Homo sapiens: one gene and its partners. The protein of the gene in region 2 interacts with the protein of the main gene of each other region in a pairwise test. Each region holds a gene or a part of one and is shown on either strand. Other genes may lie near its edges. The genes, in order: KPNA5, NUP50 and CCP110.

The links.
Region 1: the proteins of NUP50 (region 2) and KPNA5 interact in binary tests that used the Homo sapiens proteins (3 or more experiments, as listed by UniProt).
Region 3: the proteins of NUP50 (region 2) and CCP110 interact in binary tests that used the Homo sapiens proteins (3 or more experiments, as listed by UniProt).

The regions. Positions count from the first base shown.
Region 1 is NC_000006.12:116,726,142-116,733,259, forward strand, and holds part of KPNA5 (importin subunit alpha-6), read left to right. Parts: intron 1-353; coding exon 354-481; intron 482-3,421; coding exon 3,422-3,600; intron 3,601-5,994; coding exon 5,995-6,182; 3' UTR 6,183-7,118. UniProt on the Homo sapiens protein: Functions in nuclear protein import as an adapter protein for nuclear receptor KPNB1. Binds specifically and directly to substrates containing either a simple or bipartite NLS motif.
Region 2 is NC_000022.11:45,180,824-45,187,941, forward strand, and holds part of NUP50 (nuclear pore complex protein Nup50), read left to right. Parts: intron 1-462; coding exon 463-544; intron 545-2,578; coding exon 2,579-2,697; intron 2,698-3,629; coding exon 3,630-3,832; 3' UTR 3,833-7,118. UniProt on the Homo sapiens protein: Component of the nuclear pore complex that has a direct role in nuclear protein import. Actively displaces NLSs from importin-alpha, and facilitates disassembly of the importin-alpha:beta-cargo complex and importin recycling.
Region 3 is NC_000016.10:19,547,870-19,553,954, forward strand, and holds the end of CCP110 (centriolar coiled-coil protein of 110 kDa), read left to right. Parts: intron 1-85; coding exon 86-145; intron 146-645; coding exon of another isoform or gene 646-731; intron 732-3,326; coding exon 3,327-3,402; 3' UTR 3,403-5,539; downstream 5,540-6,085.

The DNA of each region.
Region 1 (7,118 bases), on a different chromosome or scaffold from region 2:
TTTTAAATAAGTTATGCAATAATCTTCCTCTCAAAGCTTTTAATGATTTATTAGGGTTCTATCAAGCTTCTTGTGTCAGTGATTACTTATCCATTTTGATCAGTCACATGGCTTGTGCTTTATCATCTCTAAAATTTATATTTTGCTATTCTCCAGTCTTTAAAAAGCTAATTTCCTATGTAAAAAGAAAAATATTTGAAAAGTTTGCTGACAGAATAGAAATTAAAAATTTATTTTAATGTCAAGGTTCCAAAAACCTTGACATTTTGAAGCCATTGAGTTTCAAGATTTTTTTTACTGGTAATATTTTAGAAACAGTATTTGTACTGATTATATATTTTTCCCCCTCTCAGGCTGTTATAGATGCAAATATTTTTCCTGTTTTGATTGAGATTCTTCAGAAAGCAGAGTTTCGTACCAGAAAAGAAGCAGCTTGGGCTATAACTAATGCAACATCAGGAGGTACTCCAGAGCAAATAAGGTATGATATAAACTTCTTAATTGTTTTTTACATGTAAATGAGACAAAAGTTGAAATAAAACATATTTTAATTTACTGATGGAACTAAAATATTATTTCTAAGTCAGTTTGATAATATGAAATGACAGCATGTATTATATCAGTTACTCATTCACAATTTTTTTTTCCCCATTTAACGTGTAATTAACATCATTCTCCTTGATAGGCTGCTTAAGAAAAATCAGAGATTAAAAAATCCAAACGGGAACGGTCTATGTTAATTTGCAGAGTACACTGTCATGGGCATTAAATATTTTTTAATCACAAAAATATAGCTTTATTATATAGAAATGGCTAATAAATTTGAATATCCACTTACTTTAAATAAAATTGAAATAGACATTGTTTATATGGTGATGTTCTGGTCCTCATTGATTGTTAGCCTTGCCTATGGATAGTATCTTTTATTTTTCTATACTAGTTACCTTTTTTTTATATTAGCTTTTTGAGTCTAGGCTTTTTAAATTTATTTATTCTGCTGACAATGTAAATAATAGGTGCATGGGCTTTTAAGTCAGCCTGATTTCAAATCCTGCTCCTTCAGTAAAAGTTGTGTGGTCTTGACAAAGTCATTTAACCCCTCTAATCTAGTTTCTTCATTTTAAAAAATGAGTTCCAGTAATGAATAGTTATGGCAGTGTAAGTCAGCCTTCCATATCCTTGGGTTTTGCATCTGTGGATTCAACCACCTGCAGGTCAAAAATATTAAAAAAGAAAAAGACAGTAAAAAATGCCAGTACAACACTACAAAATAATGCAAATTTAAAAACACAATACAACAATTAGTAACATCATAGCAATTACATTGTTTTAGGTATTATAAGTAATCTAAAGATAATTTCAAATACTTGGAAAGATATGCATAGGTTGTATGCAAATACTATGCCATTTTATATAAAGGAATTGAGCATCTGTGGATTTTGGTATTGAGAGGAAGGGTGTCTTGGAACCAATCTCCGATGAAACCGAGGGACTGTATCTTGATAGTTAAGTGAAATTTATGTCTTTGAAGTGTCAGCACAGTGCCTAAACATATTATTAATAACTAATAGATAATTAAGAATAGCTACTGTTATTATTTGTAATCATCATAATTTTTATTATCAGTATTGATTCCTGAATCTTTTATCATGTACTTTCACTCTTTTTTATCTCCCATAGCAAAGTTTCACTTACACCTCTACTAAAAGCTTCTACAGAATCGTCTTGTTCGGAGGATCCCTCCATGAAACTAGACTTCTTAGAAAATATTTTCTAATGCATATTTGATTTATTTTTCAATTTATAAAACAAGTCAAACTACAGTGCTATTTTATAAATCACATAATTTTGAAATCTACCTATTGTGAAATTGTCGTCTTTTATTGCCTTCATTTGTAGTATTATCTTGCTCTCTCAAATTTGTATAGCTGTATATTGCTAGCATCTGTCTCTGCCTTTTATTTTCTATTCTATCTCTTTGCTTTCATCAGTATTTCCACTTTGTGTCATGGATACAAGCAGTAATAAATGAAGACCCTTCCTTTGTTCTATTTTGTATTTTTTTAATGTTGATGTTACTTTTATTTTATTTGGGCTGCAAGTTTGTTCACCTGCAAATAGTTGTATTTTTTCAATTAATTTTTGTGGTTATATCTATTCTGTATATTATTGCTTTAATTTATTAGTATGGATTAAGTATCCAAACTGAGATAATTATTTTTCTAACCACTTTTATCATTTCATTAAGTTTGCATATTTGGGAAAAGACCTCTTGATCTCAGATTAAGTTATGCATCCATACCACTAGTTGAGTGCCTACTATTGCCAGTTATTGTGCTAAGTAAGTCATTTCAGTTATTGAGCACCAGCAATGTGTCTGGTACTTTCATGTATTTTATCTCCTGTAATCTCTTAACTATGAGGCAGTTATTCATTCAACAGATATTTTTGACCAATTACAGTACAGTATAGGGCAAATGAGTGCTCTGGTGAAGGTATATACATCTTTTTTTTTTAAGAGGGACAGAAACTTTTATTAAATGTCTATTGTGTTCTTACAACTACTCTCTGAAGTTGGTACTATTATTATTCCCATTTTTAAGATGGGGAAACTGAGACACAGAGTAATTGCTCAAGGTCACACAACTAATAAGGGGTGGAATTGGGACTTGAAGGCACACAGCCTGGCTTCATAGTATGTTTTTAACCTTTGTACTTAATATGGACTTTTTGCCAAGTGAACAAATCAGTTACTTCATTTACATTATAGAGTACAGAAAACCAGCCAATAACTAGAAAAGGACATGCATTCAGAAATTAAAGAATTTTTTTGTGAATATTATTTATGAACATTATTCACAAGAGAGCCTGTTTTGTTCCTACAGGCCTTCTATCCTTCTGAAACACAGTATATGTTTCAGAACATTAGCTGTGATTGTTTTTATGGGAAATTTTCTCAAGTTTAATTTAGATGTCTCTTCTTTCTTTCCATTTCTGTCTACCCCCATATGACCTCCGTGTGTGTGTGTGTGTGTGTGTGTGTGTGTGTGTGTGTGTGTCTGTGTGTAGGCTTGCCTTTAAAAAAAAAAAAAAACAACCTTTCGAACCTACGTTTAATGCTCAGATGAGCACCATGAAAAACAGGCCGAAGTACCAGTTTGTGTCTGTATTTTATAGTCTTTGCAAGACCATTTATTGCTAATTATGTTAAATTAGAGAATAGGTGAGTAAAGAAAATTTTAAGTTTCCTATGTGAGAATTTAAATGTGTGTAATGTTTGCATTTGTATAGGAATACTTTTTCTTAATTGCTTATGTAACATTTCACTATGAAAAATATTTTTGTGTCATTGTTACAAACAGTACTTAAGTCTTTTTAAATCTTTTTTTCCCTGTTTCTTCTCTTTTATATTAATCTGAAGGTATTTGGTAGCTTTAGGCTGCATTAAACCACTTTGTGATCTTTTGACTGTTATGGACTCCAAAATAGTCCAAGTGGCTTTAAATGGACTTGAAAATATTTTACGTCTTGGAGAACAAGAATCTAAGCAGAATGGAATAGGCATTAATCCATACTGTGCTCTCATTGAAGAAGCATATGGTAAGCAATCAGTTAAAAATTTGCAATTATAGTCAGTTCTTATATCTGTCATACTTTCCCCTTCCAGTTCCCTACAATTTTTTTGTTGTAAAAGCAGTATGTATTTTTTTAAGTTTTAAAATGTCACCCGTAATTTTATTACCCTAACAATTTATTTTTATTATTTACCTTTTTTTAACATTGTCTGTATGCACAAATACTTTACATTGACTTAATTGTATTGTATGTATAGTTTTATGTTCTACTTTTTAACATTTTGGAGAAATTTTACATTTCTACATAATTTTTATTATAATGGCCACATAATGTTATGTATATACTATATATATATAAAAATATGTAATTTTTTTTTTTTTTTTTTTTGAGACACAGTTTTACTCCGTCTCCCAGGCTGGAGTGCGGTGGTGTGGTCTTGGCTCACTGAAACCTCCACCTCCCATGTTCAAGCAATTCATGTGCCTCAGCTTCCTGAGTAGCTGGGATTACAGGTGCATGCCACCATGCCCGGCTGATTTTTGTATTTTTAGTAGAGACGGGGTCTCTCCATGTTGGCTAGACTGGTCTCGAGCTCCTGGCCTCAAGTGATCCAGCCACCTCAACCTCCCAAAGTGCTGGAATTACAGATATGAGCCACCATGTCTGGCCATAATGCTACATATTGAGTCAAGTTTTAGCCATTTGAATGGAAGTTTAACCATAACCTGTTGTTGACCATTAGTTTGTTCCCAGTTTATCACTTTATGTATACCAAAATAAGCATCTTTCTGTGTATATGTTTATTTCTTTTATGGAATTAATATCTGGGGATAAATTTTCAGGAATACAGTTGCTGAGTCTTAGGGCACTGACTTCTTTTTAAGCTTTTGATGTCTTCTCATTTTGCTTTCCAAAGGCCTGTTGCTGACAGTGTCACTGGCATTGTATGAATCTATTCTACAACCTCATACTTGTTTTGTTTATTTTGTGGACTCAGCAGATGTAAAATAGTACACCAAGTTGCTTTTATGTACATTTTTTGGTTTATTTCCTATAGATAGTAGTATGTATTTTTCATGAGTTAGTCTGTGTCCTTATCCAAATTGCATATTTATTGTACTTTGTCTGGTTATCTATTTGACTTTTTTTTTTGGTAAAAATTTGAATTTTATTTTATAGTAGTTTATTTTGATATGACTTTTTCCTCGGTCTATTTTTTTTCAGATCATCCATTGAACACATTCTTTTATTTTAATAAAACATACCATGTTCATTTATGTTTAAATAACTCAGTCTAATTTTCTATTCTTTCAAAGTTTACAAAGTCATTGCCTCCACAGAGATTTGATGAAAATTAATTTTTTTATTTGCCAAGTTTTAAAAATTAGGTTCTTAAAACATTTAATCATATGGAATTTATTTTAGATAAGGCATGAATCTAAATTGATTTTCTTTTATTTGCATTAAATATTCACTTTTCTGTATTAAGTCCTCTTACATTGTATGGGTGATTCAGACTTTTATTTTTGATTCTTAAAGCCCATGATATCACTTTGTCTTTCTTTCAAATTATATAACATCACTGGATAAGACATTACATGAATACAAGATATTAGTCACTGATTTAAGAATATTGTCTTACTACAGTCATTATTTTGACCCCGAGTCAGACTAGGGTTTGAGCTATTCTGTGATTGTGTATAGATAGGACTGCTTTGCTGCTTTTTTTTCTGTGATAATCTGATTGAAGTCGTTTATCTGTAATTAAATGAAATGTATTTTCAGCACTACCCAGACTTACGTGTAGAGCTTTTTCTGATAAGCAGTAAAATCGATTGCTATAGATTCTTCTCATCTTTTCAAAATGAGGCCTTTCAGTTTCAATTGTAGATTGTAATTCTTTTAAACCGCACAACAGCCATATGTTTTTTATTGTATGGGTTTGGAAATTTTACACATTTATTTCATAGTGATACTCTCTGGCTCAGCGTGTTTTATTTTCTTCATTTAATTTGTTTTGTTGCTTTCCCTTTTTGGGCTTTGTTAATTACTCTAGAAAGGACCTGTGGAGTTAATCTAAAACTGCCATTTTACAGTTGAGAAACAGAAGAACTAAACTTACCTGGCCAAGATCACACACCTAGCAGGGTGGTGTCTGTGATCTTACTCCCAGGCCTATGGTCCTTCTTCGTATGACACTGCTACATACTCTCATTCTTGAAGTATAAATCGTAAGTGATGGCTATCGGTATGTGCAACAGTTAGATTAAAATAGTCCCGTTGCCAGTGAGGTGATAGATGATGTTCACTTATTATTTTGATTTAAACATATACTGAAATTGTAGTAACAGTTTGTTTATATATATATATATATATATATATATATATATATATATATATATATACTTTGTATAACAGGTCTGGATAAAATTGAGTTTTTGCAAAGCCATGAAAATCAGGAAATTTACCAGAAGGCATTTGATCTGATTGAACATTACTTTGGTGTAGAAGAAGATGACCCCAGCATTGTACCTCAGGTGGATGAAAACCAACAACAGTTTATATTTCAGCAGCAGGAAGCACCAATGGATGGATTTCAACTTTAACTTACTGGAGGAAAAAAAATTTATGGCTAAAAAGGGTAGCTTCAGGTAACTCCTCTTTGTTGCCAATGTAAGAATGTTTGTTTTTTTACATAGAACAGTAAAGAGAATTTGATGCACTTTTAGAAAGCAAAATGAAACAAAAATTTCCATTCAGATGCAACCTTTCATTGTAGTTTGTTGTTGTTTTAGTTTTGTTGTTGTGCCTGTATTTATATCTTCTATTGTTTGGATTTTTGTATCTATTTGTGAATAATTGAATATGCAATTATTTAGTAATTTAAGCTTGAAAAGGAGAATTTTGGTGAAGCATTACTTAGTAATTCTGAATTTTTTCAAGCATTCTTGGAAACTGCACATTAGCAGTAAACCTATTGATAATTGCATTTTGGCAGTAAGTCTTACACATCTAATCTCTACTAAATCTACCTCTATCTTGAAGCAGAAATAAAAACAAAAAAGCTTCAGAAGCATGAAATAATGCAAATGCTAAATTAGAATGTGAAAATATTTATTACCTTAAATTATACATATCACTGTGCTGTAGGTTATACTTTGCAAAAAATTGCAACAGAAAACCTATAAAATTTATTTATAAAACAGAAGAAATATTATACTGATAATCCATTAAAATGTGGCAATTGTGAAGGGAGAAGCTGTTTTTCATGTTGAACACATTAAAAAGATTACTTTATAAAATGTTTAAATATTTCTGTTTTTAACATATAAGTGCTATGTATATTAGTATATTTTGTATTTCAACCAAATATGCTACCATTTTTGAAATAGTGTTTTATTGTTTTTCACTCATTGTTTTAAAGAGCATCATGACAGAGATGTCATCATGAATCTAAAGTAGTGCTGCATATCTAAAATAATAACTAATTATTTCTCTGATTTTTCAGAGCAGTAATTGAAAAGTTTCATTTTCTGTATAAT
Region 2 (7,118 bases):
TGACAACTTGTCCCCTGTTAAAAAAAAAAAAAGTATTTTTCTATCTTTGGCTATTACTGATACTTGTAGATGTAGTCACAGGAATATTCAGGGGTGAAGGTGTTAAAAACTCATCCGAGATGGAATTTTCCAGTGGGTAATTTGCATATAGAGTGTTGATTTTTTTTTTCTGTCATAAGCATGGAGATTTTTCCATTTTAAGGTTTTCTATATATTGGAAGTTATTTTAGAATTAAGAGGTATGTTCCCATTAAAAGGGATTCTTATTTTTCACAAAATAGTTAAAATCCTGCAGGTACTCCCTTCTGGCATCCCCCCCCCCCCCCATTAAGTGTGCATTTTAGTCTGTCAGTTTACATGGAGTGCTCCGGTGGAGGTTTAGGGTGTTACGTAACAAAACTTCAGTCACTTCTTTAAGCTCTGGATTGGAATCTTACTGAATTATTGTCATTTTTATAAAAGGTGGAGATGAAGAAGAGAATGATGAGCCACCCAAAGTAGTAGTTACCGAAGTAAAAGAAGAAGATGCTTTTTACTCCAAAAAGTAAGAATCCCCACAACCTGCTGGCGCATGTGTTTTGCAGGCATGGTGGCATGCTTCAGGCTGGAGAATGTCCTCACGGCACTTGACTGAGCTTCCAGTCTCGGGGTCAAGCTTTGCCTGCTCTCAAGTGGAACAGGAAAGAATTCTTGGCCAGTTTATTTAAAAATCCAGTTCTAGAAATGTCCTGGTGGGCAGGTCTCACTCTTTTCTGTCACTTTAGCTCTTTTAAAGTGCTTTAGAGACAGGATCTTCCATGATCTTCCCAACCCCATCCCATCCCATCCCATTCCATCCCGTCTTCTCTCCCTGTGTCTTTCTCCCTCCCCTTCCTCCTCCCCAACAAAGAAATCGCAGAGTCAGTCAGTGATTTCAGGTTTGGCCTCAGAAGGCATCTCTCATCCCTTCCTGGAGACTTGGTTGGCCTTTCTGGATTTTCTCATAGTCAAAAAGTTAAGCACAGTAACCGTCCCTTCCTGTTGAGGACTTATAAAAACTTTCATCTTCCTTTCAATTAAATGAGATTAGTTTTTACAAAGATATTTGCTGAAAAAACATCTGTGCCATTTCAGAAGCTTTCAAAGATGTGTTTTTGTAATGCAAAAATTTCCGAATAATGAGCCAGCAGTTTTCCATGAACAGGTCACCACATCCTGTGGGATTCCCAGGTGTTAGTTTCAAGAACTTTTAAAAGAGGCCAACAATTTCTTCTGTGTTTAAATTTCATTACTCACATGACATAAAGGAGTGACCCAACTTTAAGATTTTTTTTTTTTTTAATTAGAATCAAATGAGGCCAGGCATGGTGGCTCATGCCTGTAATCCCAGCACTTTGGGAGGCTGAGACAGGCAGATCACCTGAGGTCAGGAGTTCCAGACAAACCTGGCCAACATGGTGAAATCCCGTCTCTACTAAAAATATGAAAATTAGCCTAATGTGGTGGCGCACGCCTGTAATCCCAGCTGTTTGGGAGGCTGAGGCATGAGAATTGCTTGAACCCTGAGAAGCAGAGGTTGCAGTGAGCCAAGATCATGCCACTGCACTCCAGCCTGGGCCACAGAGTAAGACTGTCTCAAAAGAAATACATAAATCAATACATGAGCCATGGTTTTGTATTAATAACCTCAGGAGATGCATAGCACAGGAGGCTGGGAAGATATTTGATTACTTTGTTATTAGTTAGACCCTACCCAAGAATGTTTTCCAAATTTATTTAAAAATGTTGTGCAATCAAAAACTGAAAGAGCCTTGAGGTTTGTTTTTTTTTTTTTTTTTTTGAGACGGAGTCTCTTTCTGTCACCCAGGCTGGAGTGCAGTGGCACAATCTCGGCTCACTGCAAGCTCCGCCTCCCAGGTTCATGCCATTCTCCTGCCTCAGCCTCCCGAGTAGCTGGGACTACAGGTGCCCGCCACCACGCTCAGCTAATTTTTTGTATTTTTAGTAGAGACGGGGTTTCACCGTGTTAGCCAGGATGGTCTCAATCTCCTGACCTCATGATCTGCCTGCCTCGGCCTCCCAAAGTGCTGGGATACAGGCGTGAGCCACCGCACCTGGTCGAGGAGAATTTTTAAAATAAGAAATAGGCCACAAAAAAAAAAGGAGGGAGAGGTGGGCGAGATAGGACAGGGTCTTTGTCCTTTATTTGTTCCTGTCTTTAGAGGACCAGATCGGCGATCTTGAGCTCAGGGCCAAAGGAGCAGAATGGCAGGGGTTGGGGGCGGGGGGGGGGGGGGGTTGGTGTTGAGCCCTGATTTTGACTGACTTGAGAACACAGTTTCAGAAAGTGTTATAAAAAGTTTCATGGGGCCCACTGTTTAATTTGAAAAAATGGGGAGGAGTTTTAAAATCTCTAAGCAGATTTTCTTATTCTGGTTTTTGCTCAGGCTCTGTTTGGATCAATTAAAGATTTATCCTGAAGCTTCCTGTACTCATTTAATAGAGATTTTCCACACAAGTGTGAAGAGTGGTTGTTAGAAAACTGTGTGACTTGATTCGTCCTTGAATGCTTGATGGTCCCTATTATTTTTCTCCATAGGTGTAAACTGTTTTACAAGAAAGACAATGAGTTTAAAGAGAAAGGCATAGGTACTCTGCATTTAAAACCTACAGCAAATCAGAAGACACAGCTTTTGGTGCGGGCAGACACCAATTTAGGTGGGTACCTTTTTTCAGTTAGCACAAAATCATCATCACATAGTATATAAAAGCGTTTACCCTGCTGACTCAAGGTTATTAATATGTTTTTAAACAGAGCGCATTCAGGCCAAATTCATCCTGTATTTACTTATTTATAGTTTTGAGTCCCAGGATAATAGTGTGTAAGGAAACATAAATGTGTTAGAAGCTGTAAACAAAATGATTTTTCATTTTCCTTTGTGTTAGAAATGTGACTAAGAAGCTAGAGATTAGACCATTTAATGAACACCCAAGGGAAATTAACCTTTTAAAGGAATCCTTTTTATATAGCAAGTAATGACTAACTGCTTGCTGTCCATCCTCAGTTTTAACCTGAAAAGAGTCCACTGCAAGGATCCTAGTGCCCGGAGGAGGAGGAAGACGGGGCAGGCCTGCGGTGGAGCGGGCAGTAGTGGTAGAGAACAGGGGGCTGTGTTGCAGAAACTCCAGGGAGGCATTTTTCTTTCCCGTGGGCTTGACTAGGGAGTAATAACATGGTCGTGTCACTTTTGCCCAGGGAGCTGTGCCGGCCTGTGACAGAGGTGTCCTTTGTCCGTGTGGCGCAGTGAAGACACTGGGTTGTGCCACCGTGTTCTTCCTTCAGTGCAAAGACGGACAGTGTTGAGAGGGCTGACGGTTCTGAGCGAGGCTGCTGGCTCTGAGAGAAACGCTGTGTGGGTGCAGAGACCCGGGCTGGAGGGAGGACGGAAGGCCACTCCTCACAGTGAGGGCAAGTGCTCCCCGAGGCCTCCCAGTTCTCAGGGAACCAGTCCTGATTTTGTGCTGTCCTGTTGGCTCCCTGTCTTAGATGTATTAAGTTATTTCAGCATTTAATGTTTAGCATATTACAGACTCCTTTGGTGGAGCTATAGCTTCTATAATTTTGATGGGTTTTGTTTGTTTGAATGCAGGCAACATATTGCTGAACGTTCTGATTCCACCCAATATGCCATGTACGCGAACAGGGAAGAATAACGTTCTTATCGTCTGTGTTCCAAATCCACCAATTGACGAGAAGAATGCCACCATGCCAGTCACCATGTTGATTCGGGTAAAAACCAGCGAGGATGCAGACGAGTTGCACAAAATTTTACTGGAGAAAAAGGATGCCTGAACACGCAAAGTCGGCTGCAGAATTATTGCCAAGTTGCTGCTGCTTCCACCGCCCCTTAAAGTTAGTCAGTTTTTCTTCTCTTCTTTGACATTCTAAGAACTTATAGATAACTTAAAACTTTTGTGAGGAAGATTAATGTGGCCAATAAAACCTTTAAATGTTAAGTGTCAAGAAACTGCACTCTCCCTTCTTAAGAACTGCCTAAAGTGTAAAATACATTTGAATGCAATTTTTGGAAGATTTTTTAATGTTCGTTTATTAAACTAACCCTAAGTGATTTCTTCAAGGACTGCAATCAGGGTATCAATTTGCTTTCCCAAAGGCTCTTCCAACCCGTGGGTTTTGGGGTCCACCGCCACCACGAGAGAGGCTTTTGAACAGGTGCCTGGCTGTGTTCAGAAGGAAGCTGGCCTGTGTGCTTCTCTCCGGTGGGCTCAGCCGACGTGTGAGACTTGTTCTGTTACCAAATGAACCGGGCTGCCACGCTGTGACAGGCGTTTGTCCTCTGCTTTATTTTTACTTTGAAGCTCAAATGCGAGTACTAAGTGTTCACCTCAGCGTTCGAATCATTGGCCTGTAACCCTGTGGGCTGCTTCACGAGAATTCAGGACCTGCATTTTCATTCTAAAAAGAAATGAACAGCTTGTGAAGGAGTTTTTTGGCTTCATAGTTTCTATTCATGAGGTAGTGTTACTTCTTTATCCCCCTAAAGACAAAATGAAGATAAAGGGGGATTGCCAGGAATGGGTTTAAAAGCACAAATGTGGTAGCTTATCATCTACACCATGGAGAGTGAACCCTTACGAAATGAAAGTCAAATGAGACCATCCGAGAAAAAGATGCGCATAGGCATTTGTACCATGATCAACCCCACGCACATGAAAACTGTGACCAAGTGACGTGCCTGGGAGCTTTGACACACGAGCCGTGTGAATTCACTAGGAAACATGTAATAAAGTCATGGAAGAGAAAATCGTGTGTAAACTTTGCCTTTAACTTTAGACCGCAGTATATTATAATACATTTGATATCTGAAATATCTTTACTTTTTTAAGAGTAAGATTCCATATGTCTGTCTGGAAGGGAGCCATGGTTATTCACACGAATATCCCTGTCACTTCTCCAGAGGTGTCAGGTAACTAACACGAGCATTCTTTGAAGACTCTGGGCACATGAATGATACACAGAATTGAATGTTTAAATTTCCACTGAGTCCTCATGAATCATTTGAGACTAGTACCAGCTGATCTTGTGTACAGGCTCAGGGTCAGTGCCCAAGGGCTCCCGCGTGTGTGTTCTGATCTTCAGTGCGTAGCACATTCTCCATTTAGAAAAGAGTGGTCAGAATAATTGTGGACGGTACAGTGGCTTTTTAAAACTACAGTCTTTAGGTGTAAGGTTTGGCGCCGGGAGCAATTTTATGATCAAATATGATGAACTCCTAAGTCACTGAGGTGTGATTGGGCCAATGTTGGCATGAGGTTCTTGCTCTACTTCCAGTGTTTTGATTCCACTGGGAGAATTTGGCCTAGTGTGTGGCTTTGGATGAATCCGTGTAGAGAGAGGTGAGCTTGTCCTGTTACAGATGCTGTCAGACATAGCGATAGTAGGCACCTAGGGAGGAAGTGGCCGTTAGTTTTACACTGACTTTTTAAGAATGGAGAATGCACGTGGGTTTCTGTTGCGGATGATTCATAGTAAGCAAGCGGTTGATGCTGTTAATACCGGCCCCACCCGATTGACATTAAGTTTATTCAGCTTTTAAAAAGATGAAGAACTAAGGGGAACAAATTTAAGTTTGTTGCAACTTAGCCACACATGCTTCCCTGGTACCAGCTGGAATCAGCAGCTCACAGGCATCTTCAGGACACTTCAGTGTATATGACACAGTACTTTGTTAGCGTCTGCGTGTGTATGGAAAGTTGACAAAAAATGGCATGAAAAGATCATGATTGGATTTTCTTTTAAACCTGCCCTTCTGTAAAAAATAGTTTATATATTTTTAAATTAGTAGGTATGTGTGGCTTCCTTTTTTCCTAACATTCCCAGCAAATTTTTGCTGCTAAGACTATCACTGTTAAAGTGAAAATTACAGGGAAAAATGTGATGAATATACCGTAACTCAAAATGTGATATTTTCTTAAAATCACTCTTTTATGCTTTAGGAACTGGTTGGTCTCCACTTTGATTATTAGTGTAAAGAGCCTGAGTATACGTGGATTTCATTGTAAAATTTAACTCCTTGTCTTTTACTTGGGGCACGGGGCCCCTGGAGGGCTTCCCTACTTTCCCCACTATGTTAACAGGTAATTCTGATTTATGCGTTTAGTTTGACTTATTTTTAACAAAATATTAGAAGTTATGCTTTAAAATGTTTAATGTGGACTGAAATTTTCATCTTTTGTTTGAGAATCTATGAAGTGTATCATATACGTGGCCTAAAGCAAGGTGTGTATTTTGTTATTCTGAAATTGTTTTGCATCTGGACAAATACTAAATATCCCAGTGGCCTTTTTTTTTTTTTTTTTAAAACCTGTGTATCCATCTCATCCTTTTGCGCATTCCTAGTAAGCAAAAAAATTTGTTATGCCATCTTCATTATTCGAATTACAGACTGAAAAAATATGGCCAGTTTTTAAAGAAGTTTAGATTATGTTTTCCATGGAAGGACAAGTCTGACTGTTCATAGGCTGATTTTCTTTAAGAGGATTATTCTGTTTTACAATTTCAATTCTAGATCACATTTTATATATGCTGCATGCCAAAAAAAAAAAAAAGAGAAAACTGCCTTTTCTGGTGTGGAGGGGAAGAAAAACTAATATTCTACCTTACTAGTAGAGTTCAAAACAAGTTTTCACTGAGAGCCTTTTCAGTAAAAGTTAAACAAGTTTGTTTTTTGAGCATTTGTCAGTTATTCTATTTCAGAAGAGTCAAAATTCAAGCACGATACATTTTGAAGGCTTTGCAAACTCCTAAACCCCTGATGAGTCCTCTCATTCTGGAAGTGGGAATTTGAGTAGATACTGATTTGTCCCGTAGTATGGCAGATGACAGGGAGGTCTTTTCCAAGCAGGCACTCAGAACACAGGTCACCGTATGTTCTCAGCCAGTAACAATCATACTGAGGACGAAGGACTCTCCGTTTGATGCAGACACAATTGTAATGGAGATGTAAAACTTCTTAGCAATCAGATGGATAAATTGTTTGCTTTTTACTTTAAATAGGAAATTGTTTTCTAAAACTAAAATACTTGAATTGTCAGACAATATAATCTCAGCTTGTATT
Region 3 (6,085 bases), on a different chromosome or scaffold from region 2:
GTCATCATCTTTCATCCGTTGAAAGAAAATGGGAAAAAATGGAATTTAACCTATTAAATTAATTTTTCATTTAATTTGTCAACAGAGTCCTTCAGCCAAACCAAGGACAGAATGCACCTGTTCATAGGCTACTTAGTAGACAAGGGTAAGAATGCCACACACGGGTATTGAAAACTACGGAAACCAAGATTAGATTTGAGAGGGAAAAATAAATCTAGTGTTCTTTATGTAAAGGATAATGGTTTTTCAATGGGATTTTTTTTCTTTATAGCATTGGGAAAGATATTTTAAAGTTTTGTCTTCAAATGTAACCCTCTTGGTGTACTGTTGTGTATTCTAATTACTGTCTTAAGTTGGGATGTTTTTACTTTTCATTTCATACCATTTTACTCATAAAGTATTTTAAATATCCATATAGTAAATTCAGCATCACCGAAGTGATTCTCCAACAGAGTATGACTCGTGCTTATAGTCTCCTGCTGAAGCCAGAGTTTAGCTTTCCTTACTGTGCGCATGCATGAGACTTCAGTTCTTTTCAAGCTTATTTGTGCTTTGGACAGTTGATGCAATGTGATTGCTTTCTTTGAATTTTGAACATTTAGACCTTAATGCCAGTGACTTATTAATTTTTTTATATTCAATTAGAACCCCTAAGACATCAGTGAAGGGGGTTGTGCAAAATAGACAGAAGCCTTCACAGAGCAGAGTGCCTAACAGAGTGCCTGTTTCAGGTTTGTAGAAAATAAATTCCTGAAGCCCATTCAATAGAAGGAAGTGCACAAGCTGCCCCATAACTCAGGCCATAGAAGTGGAATAGATTGTCTTTCCTTGCCACCATAATTTTGGCATATTCACAGTCATCTTATTAGTGTTCTTTGGTCTTAGCATTGTATGGCAGTCAGGAAGTCTTAGTAAAAGTGTGATTCCAGTCTTCATTTCTATAATATTTCTGTGGAAAGCACCTTGTATTTTTCATTCTGAAAAAATTGTAGAATTTGCCATGCTTAATTCAGAAAACCTTTTTATTTAATGAATAAAAGATAACGATCATCTCTGGTGCTAAGTCTGTGCATTGTCTGTTCAGCTTGGGGAAGTGTATCTGCACATAAGGGGATAAACTTTCTCCCTCAGACTATAAGATCACATGTGAATATGCCAGTGGGAGGAGGGCTTCATATTTTGCTCAGTCCAAAGCTTGAGCTAAATCTCTCCTTATGTTCATTATTTGAGGATTAAGAGCTAAACTAAAAACTGTATTTTAAAATTCTGTTTATGGTGGCAAGAAGACAAACTCATTCTTGAGCAAATTCAAAGCTCTTAACCAAATGCTTTAATATTTTTTAGGTATCTTTGTTAAGACACTTTGATTAAGCTCACTTAAAAATTATGTGATCCATTTAAAAATACTTTCCAAATGTTGTGCTTTAACTATACTGCTTTCTAGACATTTACAACAAACCTAAATTAATCACCAGGCATTGAAGATTAAACCTTTAATCAATTTTAATCTTTCCATTAATATACAATTAGGCAAATTTTAGAGCTTTATTACTAAGTGATTTCCTTCAAATTAGGAGGGAACAAGCTATTGGTCGTAACTTTGAAATGATGGCTGACCTTTTGTATGTATGTAGTGAAGGTAATTCATAGTGTCACACATATATAGGATAATTTAAAAGATCATCTTTGGAAATCATTGTGAGTGACAGTTAATGGAATTGTCTTAAAGGATTACATAGCTGAAGATACTGTTTACTCCAGAGGCAGTCAGAATAAGCTAGTTTGAAAGATAACCATTTGAAAGGACTCAGACCAAACACCAAACCTGTGGAATTTTAAGACATTTTCTGTTTTTCTCATGTTAGTATTCTATATTGCACTGAAACTTAGCAAGTTGGAAAATCATTGAGGAATTAGTATTGTTTTGCCTGATACCAATTTGCCACAGTGACTACTCTCCATGTTCTTTTCTCATGCATTTCATCTCCACTATTTGTCACTTGTGAACTTATAAGCAAAATAGCAAGTACTGTTTTTATTCAGCAATACTCAACAGTATAAAGGATGTATAGTCAGTCACTGAAGTTAGTAACATACAATGAAGTTCATTATTTTGAACTATTGAGGTTAAATTGCATTGCAACATACTTATTAATACAAATGAACTTAACCCTTGAATTAATATGTATCTAAACAAGTACAAAAGTCTGTTGCTGTTGTTTTCTAAAGATTTACTTATACATGAGTGCATATTTAGACAATTGAAAGAAACTAAATAATTGTGTTCTTTTTTTTTTTTTGAGACAGAGTCTTGTTCTGTTGCCCAGGCTGGAGTGCATTGGTGTGATCTTGGCTCACTGCAATCTCCACCTCCTGGGTTCAAGCCATTCTTCTGCCTGAGCCTCCCAAGTAGCTGGAATTACAGGCGCGTGCCACCATGCCCAGCTAATTTATTGTATTTTTAGTAGAGATGGGGTTTTACCATATTGGCCAGGCTAGTCTCGAACGCCTGACCTCAGGTGATCCGCCCACCTCGGCTTCCCAGAGCTCTGGGATTACAGGTGTAAGCCACCGCGTCCAGCCAGAATTGTATTCTTTTATATAAACTGAGAGTTTGGGATATTGGCTGGTTAAAATGCTAACTATGAATCTGAACACAGGAACTCACTGTCGCTCTTGAAAAGATTACTCTTTCCTGCTTAGAGTTTTAATGGTCTGAATTATGTTTTAAACAAATTTGAAATTATGTTCTGATTTGCTCTAAATGGAGGCAAATCCTTTGTTAAGCAATTTATAGAAAACTAACTTTTCTTATGATAGAATATCATACTCTTAGACTGAAGTAGAATTCTAAAATGTTAAAGTATGCTGCAAAGCATTTAGTTATTTATAGTTTTACAAACCTAAATTGCAATCTCTGATGTTATCGTAAGTGATCTTTGACTTACGGTTTTAAAACACATTTCTTCATTTGATGTTTTGTGCTTGACTAGAGTTTATATAGTGAAATTCAGAAACCACTAATCAAAGCAGAGTAGGAGGTGGTCATGCAAAATGGTTAAGTAAAATAACACATCAGGTGGACTTGGGTTATCAGAGTTCTTCCTTCTAGCTCTGTTCCTTAGGCAACTGCTCTCCTATGCCTCAGTTTTATTATCCTTAAAATGGTCATAACAATTTCTACCTCAGGATGATTCATATAAGGATTAAATATGATAATGTATATTGCCTAGCTCAGTGTTTGTTCCAGAGTAAAAACTCATTAAATGGTATCATTATAGAAAACCTCCCATTGAGAAGTAATACTGGTTTTGCTCTATTTTTAGGAGTATATGCAGGAAAAATCCAAAGAAAGCGGCCAAATGTTGCGACAATTTAAGAAGACAACATTCATTAGGATAAAATGGGGGGAAGGATTATTATTCATGTTATTTTCCCTGCCCAAGACTTTATTTAACCCTGGACTCCGTTTACACAGACAAAGTGACATCAGAAGGCTGAGCACTTATCTGGATCATTTGGTCAGTTTGGTAATTCCTGCTCCACACCCCTATTTTCCTCTTAATAATACGTTTGGGTGAAGACAAATTAGTGTTTAGTAATTGCATCATCTCTGTGCTTACCTATACAAACATAAGTTTATTTTATATGCCCAGATGTCTACAGAGACCCTTTTTGTAAATGTCAAGGACATTTGGATTTACTTTTACAGAATATTGAAAAGATAAGACAAATTATAAATAAGTTCTAAAACATAAATTTAATTCATCTCTGCATAGTGATTTTTGAATTTGATTCAAAGGGAAATTATTGCAGAAGAATGCCTTTCCCTCATTTTATAACTTTAAAAACTTGGATTAACCACTCAATGTCCACTTTCTTTGACTTACAGTATAACCATGTAGCCAATTGTGGCCCACTAAAATCTACAGAAGTTAATGTGGGTCACCATTTTGGTCAGAAGCATACATTCCTGTCAGACAACTAGTTGTCTGACAGAAATGTTAGGCTTCATGTATGTTACCCCAGTACTGTTAGAAACATTTGTACTAGGTTATAAGATCTTTCTGTGACAGGTAACAAATTTGGGGAAGACAGCACAATCTTCTTGAATGTAGCTCTTGGGAATGCATTATTACATCCATTTCTGTAACATAATAATATGTTGCATGCAGTTATATTTTCTATTTAGTCTGTATATTTTGTTCTTCATAGTCTGTTTTTTCTAGCATGCTTGATTTAGGAGAGAATAAAGGGCTATATAATAATAAATCCAGATTTCCGGATAAGAATATTGCCTGGTTAAAATTCTGCATTGCTTAAAGACACCCATGTTTAAGATTTTTCATCACTAACATATCCATTAAAAGTATCAACTGGCCAGGCAGGGTGGCTCACGCCTGTACTCCCAGCATTTTGTGAGGCCAAGGTGGGTGGATCACCTGAGGTCAGGAGTTTGAGACCAGCCTGACCAAACATGGCGAAACCCCATCTGTACTGAAAATACAAAAATTAGGCATGGTGGTGCATGCCTGTAGTTCCAGCTACTTGGGAGGCTGAGACAGGCGAATTGCTTGAACCTGGGAGGCAGAGGTTGCAGTGAGCTGAGACTGTGCCATTGCACTCCAGTCGGGTTAACAGAGCAAGACACTGTCTCAAAAAAAAAAAAAAAAAAAAGTATCAACCAACAAATGTTACCAAGATAACGTGACTTCATGAGGGAGAATGTCACTATTAATTTATCATACCATTTCCAAAAAGGGCTTTGTGCTTTTCACATAAAATTGAGACAGTGTATATTTAATCTAATTTAAATTTTAAAGAGATACTGGTATTTTGAAAATGCAACCTATATATATTCTTAATATCCTTTTAAGAATATGGAGATGAAGATTGTTTTCTCCAATTTTCTGTGCCATTTTAAATTTAACTTTGACATCCAGCTATAGACAGAAATAATAAGCCACCCTGGGTGTAAACTTGATTTTCTTTATTGAGATGTATCATGTATTGAATGAGTGAACCAGAAAATTAGAAGATGGTCAAAAAAAGTCCAAGTTACCAATTTTTTAAAATTTATAGGCAAAGTATCAAATTGTCTTCTTAATATGATAAACTGTGCTTTATCATTCTGAAAACTCAGGATACAGCTTATTCATAGCATTGTGGGTCTCTCCAGTAAGAAAGATGCTAAAAGTTTTGTGCACTTTTTGTGTGTGTAATGCAAATTAGTTAAAACAAATAGTTTTGGAGAAAGTTAAAACTAGCTTTAGAGTAAGGATGAGAAACTTGAGTGTTTTTAATTTAAAGATAAAAGCCTGTGTTTTACACATTCTTTTTTGGTGTTCATAGCTTCTTCTCATACAGGTGCCAGACACTGTTTGTGCTTTTGATGGATTTTTATTTATATACTTTTTTTGCTTATTTTTACTTTGAGTGGAATGTTCATTAATGTAAATTGTATTTATTTTTATACTTTTATTTTCACTAGTTTTGCTTCTAGGCAAAAAGCAAAATAAACTTTTCATCTTAAAGAAAATCTAGTTTGATTGTTTTTATTTACCAGGGGAAGGACTATTAAGAAATAGGCCGGGCATGGTGGCTCATGCCTGTAATTCTAGCACTTTGGGAGGCCAAGGTGGGTGGATCATGAGATCAGGAGTTTGAGATCAGCCTGGCTAACATGGTGAAACCCCGTCTCTACTAAAAATACAAAATTAGCTGGGCGTAGTGGTGCATGCCTGTAGTTCCAGCTACTTGGGAGGCTGAAGCAGGAGAATCGCCTGAGCCTGGGATGGGGAGGCTATAGTGAGCCGAGATTGTGCCACTGCACTGCAGCCTGGGTGACAGAGCAAGACTCCATCTCAAAACAAAACAAAAAAGAAACCGATATTAGCCAGGCATGGTGGTTCACATCTGTAGTCCTAGGTACGCTGGAGGCTGAGGCAGGAGGATCACTTGAACCCAGGAGTTACAGGTGGCAGTGAGCTATAATCGCACCACTGCACTCCAGCCTGAATGAGACTTTGTCTCCAAAACAAAAAAGAAAAAAGAAACAGATATTGAAAAGTATTAGGCCAAAACA